Linked DNA regions of Homo sapiens. The protein of the gene in region 2 interacts with the protein of the main gene of each other region in a pairwise test. Each region holds a gene or a part of one and is shown on either strand. Other genes may lie near its edges.

Region 1 (3,680 bases), on a different chromosome or scaffold from region 2:
TGGCCTGGAGTTGCTGATAATTTAGGTGGGATAGATACTTGGTCTACTTAAGCTCAATGTAACCCAGAGCCCACCATATAGTTTTATAGGTGCTCAATTTTCTATATCGCTATTAAACTTTTTTCTTTTTTTCTAAAAACTAGCTGGGCCCAAAGTTTCAAACAACAGCCGGGCACACATAGCTAGCTGGTCGATGAGGCAGCACCCAGAATGGCCGCTGTCTTGTTAAGCTCAAGCTCCAGCCTGAGCAACATAGTGAAACCCCAATTCTACACACACACACACACACAAAGAAGACTGCAGGGCTGGTGGTGCAGCGCCTGTAGTCCCAGTTACTGCAGAGGTGGAGATGGGAGGATCACTTGAGTCCAAAAGGTCAAGACCAGCCTGGAGGCTGGGCGCAGTGACTCACACCTGTAATCCTAGCACTTTGGGAGGCCGAGGCAGGCGGATCACCTGAGTGTAGGAGTTCGAGAGCAGCCTGGCCAACATGGAGAAACCTCGTCTCTACCAAAAATACAAAAATTAGCCGGGCGGCTGGGCGCGGTGACTCACGCCTGTAATCCCAGCACTTTGGGAGGCCAAGGCGGGTGGATAACAAGATTAGGAGATCGAGACCATCCTGGCTAATACGGTGAAAGCCCGTCTCTACTAAAAATACAAAAAATTAGCCGGGTGTGGTGGCAGGCGCCTGCAGTCCCAGCTACTCGGGAGGCTGAGGCAGAAGAATGGCGGGAACCCGGGAGGCGGAGCTGGCAGTGAGCCAAGATCGTGCCACTGCACTCCAGCCTGGGTGATAGAGCGAGACTCCGTCTCAAAAAAAAAAGCCACGCATGGTGGTGGGCGCCTGTAATCCCAGTTACTCGGGAGGCTGAGACAGGAGAATCGCTTGAACCCAGGAGGCGGAGGTTGCAGTGAGCTGAGATCACGCCACTGCACTCTAGCCTGGGCGACAGAACAAGACTCCGTCTCAAAAAAAACCAAAAAAAATTTAGAGGGGCGTGCACGCCTGTATTCCCAGCACTCCAGGAGGCTGAAGCAGGAGGATCGCTAGAACCAGGGGTTCAAGACTGGGGCGAGCTATGATGGTGCCCCTGCACTCTAGCCTGGGCGACAGGGCGAGACTGTCTCAAAAGAAAAAAAGACCAGGCGCGGTGGCTCACACCTGTAATCCTAGCACTTCAGGAGACCAAGACTGGAGGATCGCTGGAGCCCAGGAGTTCCAGACCAGTCCTGGCAACAGAACTAGACCGTGTCTCCAAAAAAAAAGAGAAAGAAAAAATAGAAACCTTAGCTGGGCTTGGTGGTGCGCATCTGTGGTCCCAGATACTCGGGACGCTGAGGCGGGAGGATCACATGAGCCCAGGAGGTTGAGGCTGCAGTGAGGTATGATCGCGCCACTGCACTCCTGCCTGGGCAACTGAGCATGAACCCTCCTCAAAGCTAATGGCGCTTCAAAATTCTGCAGTGCAAAGAAGTTGCTGGGGTTGCGGAGCGGAGAACCGCCAGGAGGCTGGAGCCCAGCCAGGCAGCCTCCTCGGGCACACGGTGAAGGCGCCGGAACTACAGCTACCTCCGCGGCGCCGCTTCGGCCGCCATATCTGGGTACACGGGAACCGCAGAGGACAAACTCTCACCCGCGTTTTCGATTTCTGCGCTTTCTTCGAGTGAGGCAAGACCTAGCAGAGGCCCAAGGTAGAGCGCGGCTAGGATTCGATGGAGGGAAACATAAAGGATAGCCTTTGGAGGGTGACGGGCAAGGACGTACGTACCGCGAACGGAATGGGGCGGGGGCCGAGGACGCCGAGGGAGGGGCGGGCCCAAGTGTGAAGGGAGTCTGGGCGATACCATTTTGGGCAGGGGTTGAGGGTGATACCAACTTAATGGGAGGCGGGTGGCAGAGAACCGAGGCTTAGGGGCAGTGGCGGGGCCGAGCGCGGGTGGGGGATCGCGGAGGGACAGGACGGTCGCCCACTGCTCCATTTCCTTTCTCCCCAGCCCGTCCCTCCCTGCCAGGAGCAGCCTCATGCGGACCGAGCCGCTGTGCGGGGCATCCCCTCTGCTGGTGCCCGGCGACCCCTACTCTGTGGTGGTTCTGCTGCAGGGCTACGCGGAGCCAGAGGGTGTGGGCGATGCCGTGCGCGCCGACGGCTCCGTGACCCTGGTCCTACCCCAGACCCGGGGCCCGGCCTCCAGCCACCGAGAGTCCCCGCGCGGGAGTGGCGGCGCAGAGGCCGCCCTGGAGGAGGCGGCCCGTGGCCCCATCCTGGTGGACACCGGGGGCCCCTGGGCTCGGGAGGCGCTGCTGGGGGCGCTGGCGGGGCAGGGCGTGGCCCCGGGAGACGTGACGCTAGTGGTGGGGACCCACGGGCACTCGGATCACATCGGGAACTTGGGGCTGTTCCCAGGCGCGGCTCTGCTGGTCTCGCACGACTTCTGCCTTCCCGGAGGCCGCTACCTGCCCCACGGGCTGGGTGAGGGGCAGCCCCTGCGCCTGGGCCCGGGGCTCGAGGTGTGGGCCACGCCGGGCCACGGGGGCCAGCGCGACGTGAGCGTGGTGGTGGCCGGCACGGCTCTGGGCACCGTGGTGGTGGCGGGAGATGTGTTTGAGCGAGATGGGGACGAGGATTCGTGGCAGGCACTGAGTGAAGACCCCGCAGCCCAGGAGCGGAGCCGGAAGAGGGTCCTGGTCGTTGCCGACGTGGTCGTACCTGGTCACGGGCCCCCCTTTCGAGTGTTAAGGGAAGCCTCGCAGCCCGAGACGGAGGGTGGAGGGAACAGCCAGCAGGAGCCGGTGGTCGGAGACGAGGAGCCCGCCCTGCACTAATCAGCCTCGAGAGGGACTGCACTCTTGTCAGGGAAGCCCTAACAGCGAAGAGCTGCTGGAGACAGAGTCAGAGCAGTCAAGGGTGGGAGCTTCCAGCCCTTCCAGGAGGCCAGTTTTCTAGTGAAGACAGAGTGCACCTGACACTGCCATCACATCGTCAGTATCACTGCCTGTCTCTGCCACCAAACTAAGATCAAAGGAGGGGCTCAGCTCCCTGTGCATTCTCCCTGGGCCTCAGTAAAATGGGAGAAGGTTCGTGGGAGGGGCCTCCAAAATAAAAATGGAAACTGCATTGAAAATCATAGTGCCCTAGTGTAAATGTGAAGCATTGACAATGATAATCGTGCAAACATGGTAATCTACAACTACAGCAGAGGCATACTTTGGCCAATTGCCCCTTTCTTATAGGATGGAGGTTGCTGAGAGAAGGTACAGGGCATAAAGATGACCCCTTAGTCACCTGACTTATGTATTTGTTCATATTTTTTTGTCACACAGGCTAGAGTGCAGTTGTGCAGTCATAGCTCACTGCAGCCTCCAGCTTAAGCCATCCACCTGCCTCAGCCTCCCAAGTAGCTGGGATGACAGGCAAGTGCCACTATGCCCCACTAATTTTTTTTTTTTTTTGAAACACGGTTTCACTCTGTCCCCACAGGCTGCAATGCAATAGCACAATCTTGTACTGCAGACTGCACTGCAACCTCTGCCTCCTGGGTTCAATTGGTTCTTGTGCCTCAGCCTTCCCAGCAGCTGGGATTACAGGCTCACACTACCATGTCCAGCTAATTTTTATATTTTTAGTAGAGAAAGGGTCTTACCATGTTGGCCACACTGGTCTCAAACTCCTGGCCTC
Region 2 (3,651 bases):
GAAAATCAAAATTATTGCAGAGATGGGAAAGAGCATCAGAGAAATCTAAAAGTAGAAGTCATCAAGTGGTAAAGGGATTTGACATGGTGGAAGAGAGAATTGCAGGGATATAACTAGGTAATATGGCAGTGTAAACAGAAAGTAGATAACTGTGCCTTAGAAAACTGGAAGAGTGTCACTCTATGCATGTGAAAAAGGTTTAAAGATCTATGCCAAGAATTTCCGTGACTTTTAAACAGTATTTACAGAAAATTCCCAGCTGTTATGGGAAGAATAAACTGGGGAGGTGAGATCAGAAGCAGAAAAGCTAGGTAAGAAATCTTGAGGAACAAAATAAAAAGGGGATGGGTACATTGGGAGATAAGAAGAGCTGGGCCTGAATAAGGCCGTGGGAACAAGTTACTTCATCTTCTTGAAGCTCAAACATTTTACAGAGCACTCAGCAATTGAAGACAGACAAGACCCAAACATCACCTCTAAAGAATCAGCTCTGGGAGGAGGGAGATTTTGTCTGCATTGCGATTTCCCCTACCTTAGACTACAATAGGCACTCAATATTAACATTTTTAAATTAATTAATTGTGGTATCTAAAGTCTAGTGTGAATTAATGCAAGGAGCACAATTTTTAGAAAACTAAATGAACAGTTTTACTGGAAAAATATATATACTAAGACAGTCAAGAAAAAACTGTATAATTTGGAAAAATTAAACATTAAGAAAAATGGTTTCTTTTTAAAGTTCCATAAGCTTACAGGAGCTCTAAAATGTCTAACACTTGCAGACTGCTGTTTTCTAAGGGATCATGAAAAGGATGCATGCTTCATAAATTTATCCCAGCATGAAAAATCAAACATGGTAAAATGTTAGGTGGAGGTTAGTAACTCTCGGGCACAGTATTTACTTACTTTTGCTATATTTTTCCAAAGGATATTCTGGACCACTGAAGGAAATTCCTCCTGAAAAATTCAACACCACAGCTGTCCCTAAGTACTATCAATCTCCCTGGGAACAAGCCATTAGCAATGATCCGGAGCTTTTAGAGGCTTTATATCCTAAACTTTTCAAGCCTGAAGGAAAGGCAGAACTGCCTGATTACAGGAGCTTTAACAGGTAATTCAATGGTCCTGGGTGACACTGTTGGCATGCAATACCAAAATTTTTTCATCATGGTACAGATAACTGAATTCCCTGGTAGAAAGCAATTTTTTCTTTTGAGAAAAGAATCTAAATAGCAATATAGGATATCTTCTAAGCCTAGGCAAAGACTCATTTTTGTAATATTACTATTATTTTCAAACTTGGTCATTTTTAGTATAAAAATGAAGGAAATGATTCAGAAACTATCATTGGTATAACATCAAGATTATCCCTTGATACTTTAAAAATGTTATTTTAATAATAGTTTCAAATCCAAAGATTGATCTGGGTTTATGCATTGTTTCAAATGGCAATACTGTTCAAGAATTTAATAAATAATTCACATGCAAGGCTATGAGAATTACTGTGTAACTCCAGATTCTATCTTACATTTTTGCAGGCTTTAGGACAGATTAAAAGTAATTTAGAGACTTAATGGCCCAAGATTCCAGAAGAGGTACAACCCAAAACTTATGCTATCAAAAATATCACCAAATGATATCTGTAGTATAGTTTATAGAATGGGCATCCATTTTTCTCTGTTATTCAGTTTTTATAATTTCCATGGATATTTTGAATTTTTAATAGTCTCATAATCCATTATTTGATCACTTGACCTTCATTTTAGAGTAAAATATTAAAATATCTAATATCTAGTATGCTGTCTCACACTCAAAAAAAGTTAGACTCAATTTATAGGCAGCTTAATAACCATTCATTTAAAAATGAATAAATTAATGAGTAAATTTTTTTATTTAAAAAAAGAATGCCAAATAGACTGCATTTAAACAGTGATCTTCTTAAGTGATCGGATGTGGTGGCTCATGCCTGTCATCCCAGCACTTTGGGAGGCTGAGGTGGGTGGATCACTTGAACCCAGGAGTTCAAGACTACCCTGGGCAACATAGCAAGAACCCTGTCTCTACAAAAAATACAAAAATTAGCCAAGAGTGGTGGCATGTACCTGTAGTCCCAGCTACTTGGCAGGCTGAAGTGGGAGGATCACTGGAGCCCAGGAGGTGGAAGTTGCAGTGAGCTGAAATCATGTAACTTCACTCTAGCCTGGGCAAATAGTGAGACCTTGTCTCAAAAAATAATAAATAAATAAAATAAATAAAAATAAATATTGTACTATTAAGATTTTAGTTTTTGCACACTACCATTATTAGTAATGCATCCCTTGCATGAAAGAGGTGTACCATAGAATTTAAAGAGGGGTTGAGGAGTGGCAGGGAAAGAAAGTTGGAGGCCCATTCTGATCAATGTTATAATTTTTTTTTCAAAATGAGAGTGTAGAAAATTATAACAAGTAAAACATTAGGGGAAAATGGAAATTAATGGAATAACTCGGATTTGTTTTTGAGATTAAGTGCTTAAGACATGCTGTAAGACTTCTCTGTATCTTGTGGCTTTGGTGCCCTGTACCTGCTGAGCAGCTTGCCTGTAGTTCTACACACACTGGTGTGGTAATATTTGGGTTAGTTATAAAGAGATGCCTATTGACTGTATAAATACCAGGTGAGTACTATATCAGTGAGCACAATACCATTCAACAGGAAATGTAGCTCCCTGTGTTAATCAAAGCTTTTGCAAATATTACATGCTGTGTGTGTGTGCGTGTGTGTGTGTGTGTGAAAACTTAATCTGCTAATACTTCTCTTTTACTTTAGAACATTTTATTCCTTTGCATATCTACATCAACGTAGAAATAAAAACTTAGGAATTAAATTCTTTCAACATGATAGTATATTCTTAGACTTCTTATTATTAAATAACATTAATGGATGAAACAAAACATGATATGATACATAGACAGCCCAAACAGATAGCTGTAAGATCCTTTCTAACCTTGAAGCGTATGTAGGCCAGGTGCGTATGTACAGGCTGGGGTACATGCCTGTAATCCCAGCACTTTGAGAAGCCAAGGTGAGCTGAGCCCAGGAGTTTGAGACCTGCCAGCACAACATAGTAAGAACTCAAAAAGTGAGGCGAGAGGGTCGCTTGAGCCCAGGAGGTTGAGGCTGCTGCAATGAGCTATAATCACACCACTGTACTCCCACCTGGGCAATGGGAGAGAGACCCTGTCTCAAAAAAAAAAAAAAGTATATGCACAGGGATACACAAAGTTTAAGACATTGTCTAGTACGTGCATTGCTTTAGAAGTCCACTTAAAAAACAACTAAACAGTATACAGGCATACCTCGTTTTATTGCACTTCACTTTACTCTTCTTGGCAGATACTGCATTTTCTCACAAATTGAAGGTTTGTGGCAACCCTGTGTCAAGCAAGTCTATTGGTGCCATTTTTCCAACATCATGTGCTCACTTTGGTAATTGTCACAATATTCTGATTTCATTATTATTATATCTGTTATGGTGACCTGTGATCAGCAATCTTAGATGTTACTATTGTAACTGTTTTTGGGATGTCATGAACCATGCCCATGTAAAAAGGCAAACTTAATCAATACATGTTGTGTGTGTTCTGAGTGCTCCAATGACCAGCCACTCCC

Evidence for each region. Proteins that work in one complex are often made in the same cells at the same time.
Region 1: the proteins of MYOZ2 (region 2) and MBLAC1 interact in a two-hybrid assay, tested with the Homo sapiens proteins (one large-scale study listed by BioGRID).

What each region holds. Positions count from the first base shown.
Region 1 is NC_000007.14:100,125,370-100,129,049, forward strand, and holds MBLAC1 (metallo-beta-lactamase domain-containing protein 1), read left to right. Parts: upstream 1-1,597; 5' UTR 1,598-1,695; exon of another isoform or gene 1,696-1,802; intron 1,803-1,998; 5' UTR 1,999-2,026; coding exon 2,027-2,827; 3' UTR 2,828-3,126; downstream 3,127-3,680. UniProt on the Homo sapiens protein: Endoribonuclease that catalyzes the hydrolysis of histone-coding pre-mRNA 3'-end. Involved in histone pre-mRNA processing during the S-phase of the cell cycle, which is required for entering/progressing through S-phase.
Region 2 is NC_000004.12:119,163,284-119,166,934, forward strand, and holds part of MYOZ2 (myozenin-2), read left to right. Parts: intron 1-927; coding exon 928-1,111; intron 1,112-3,651.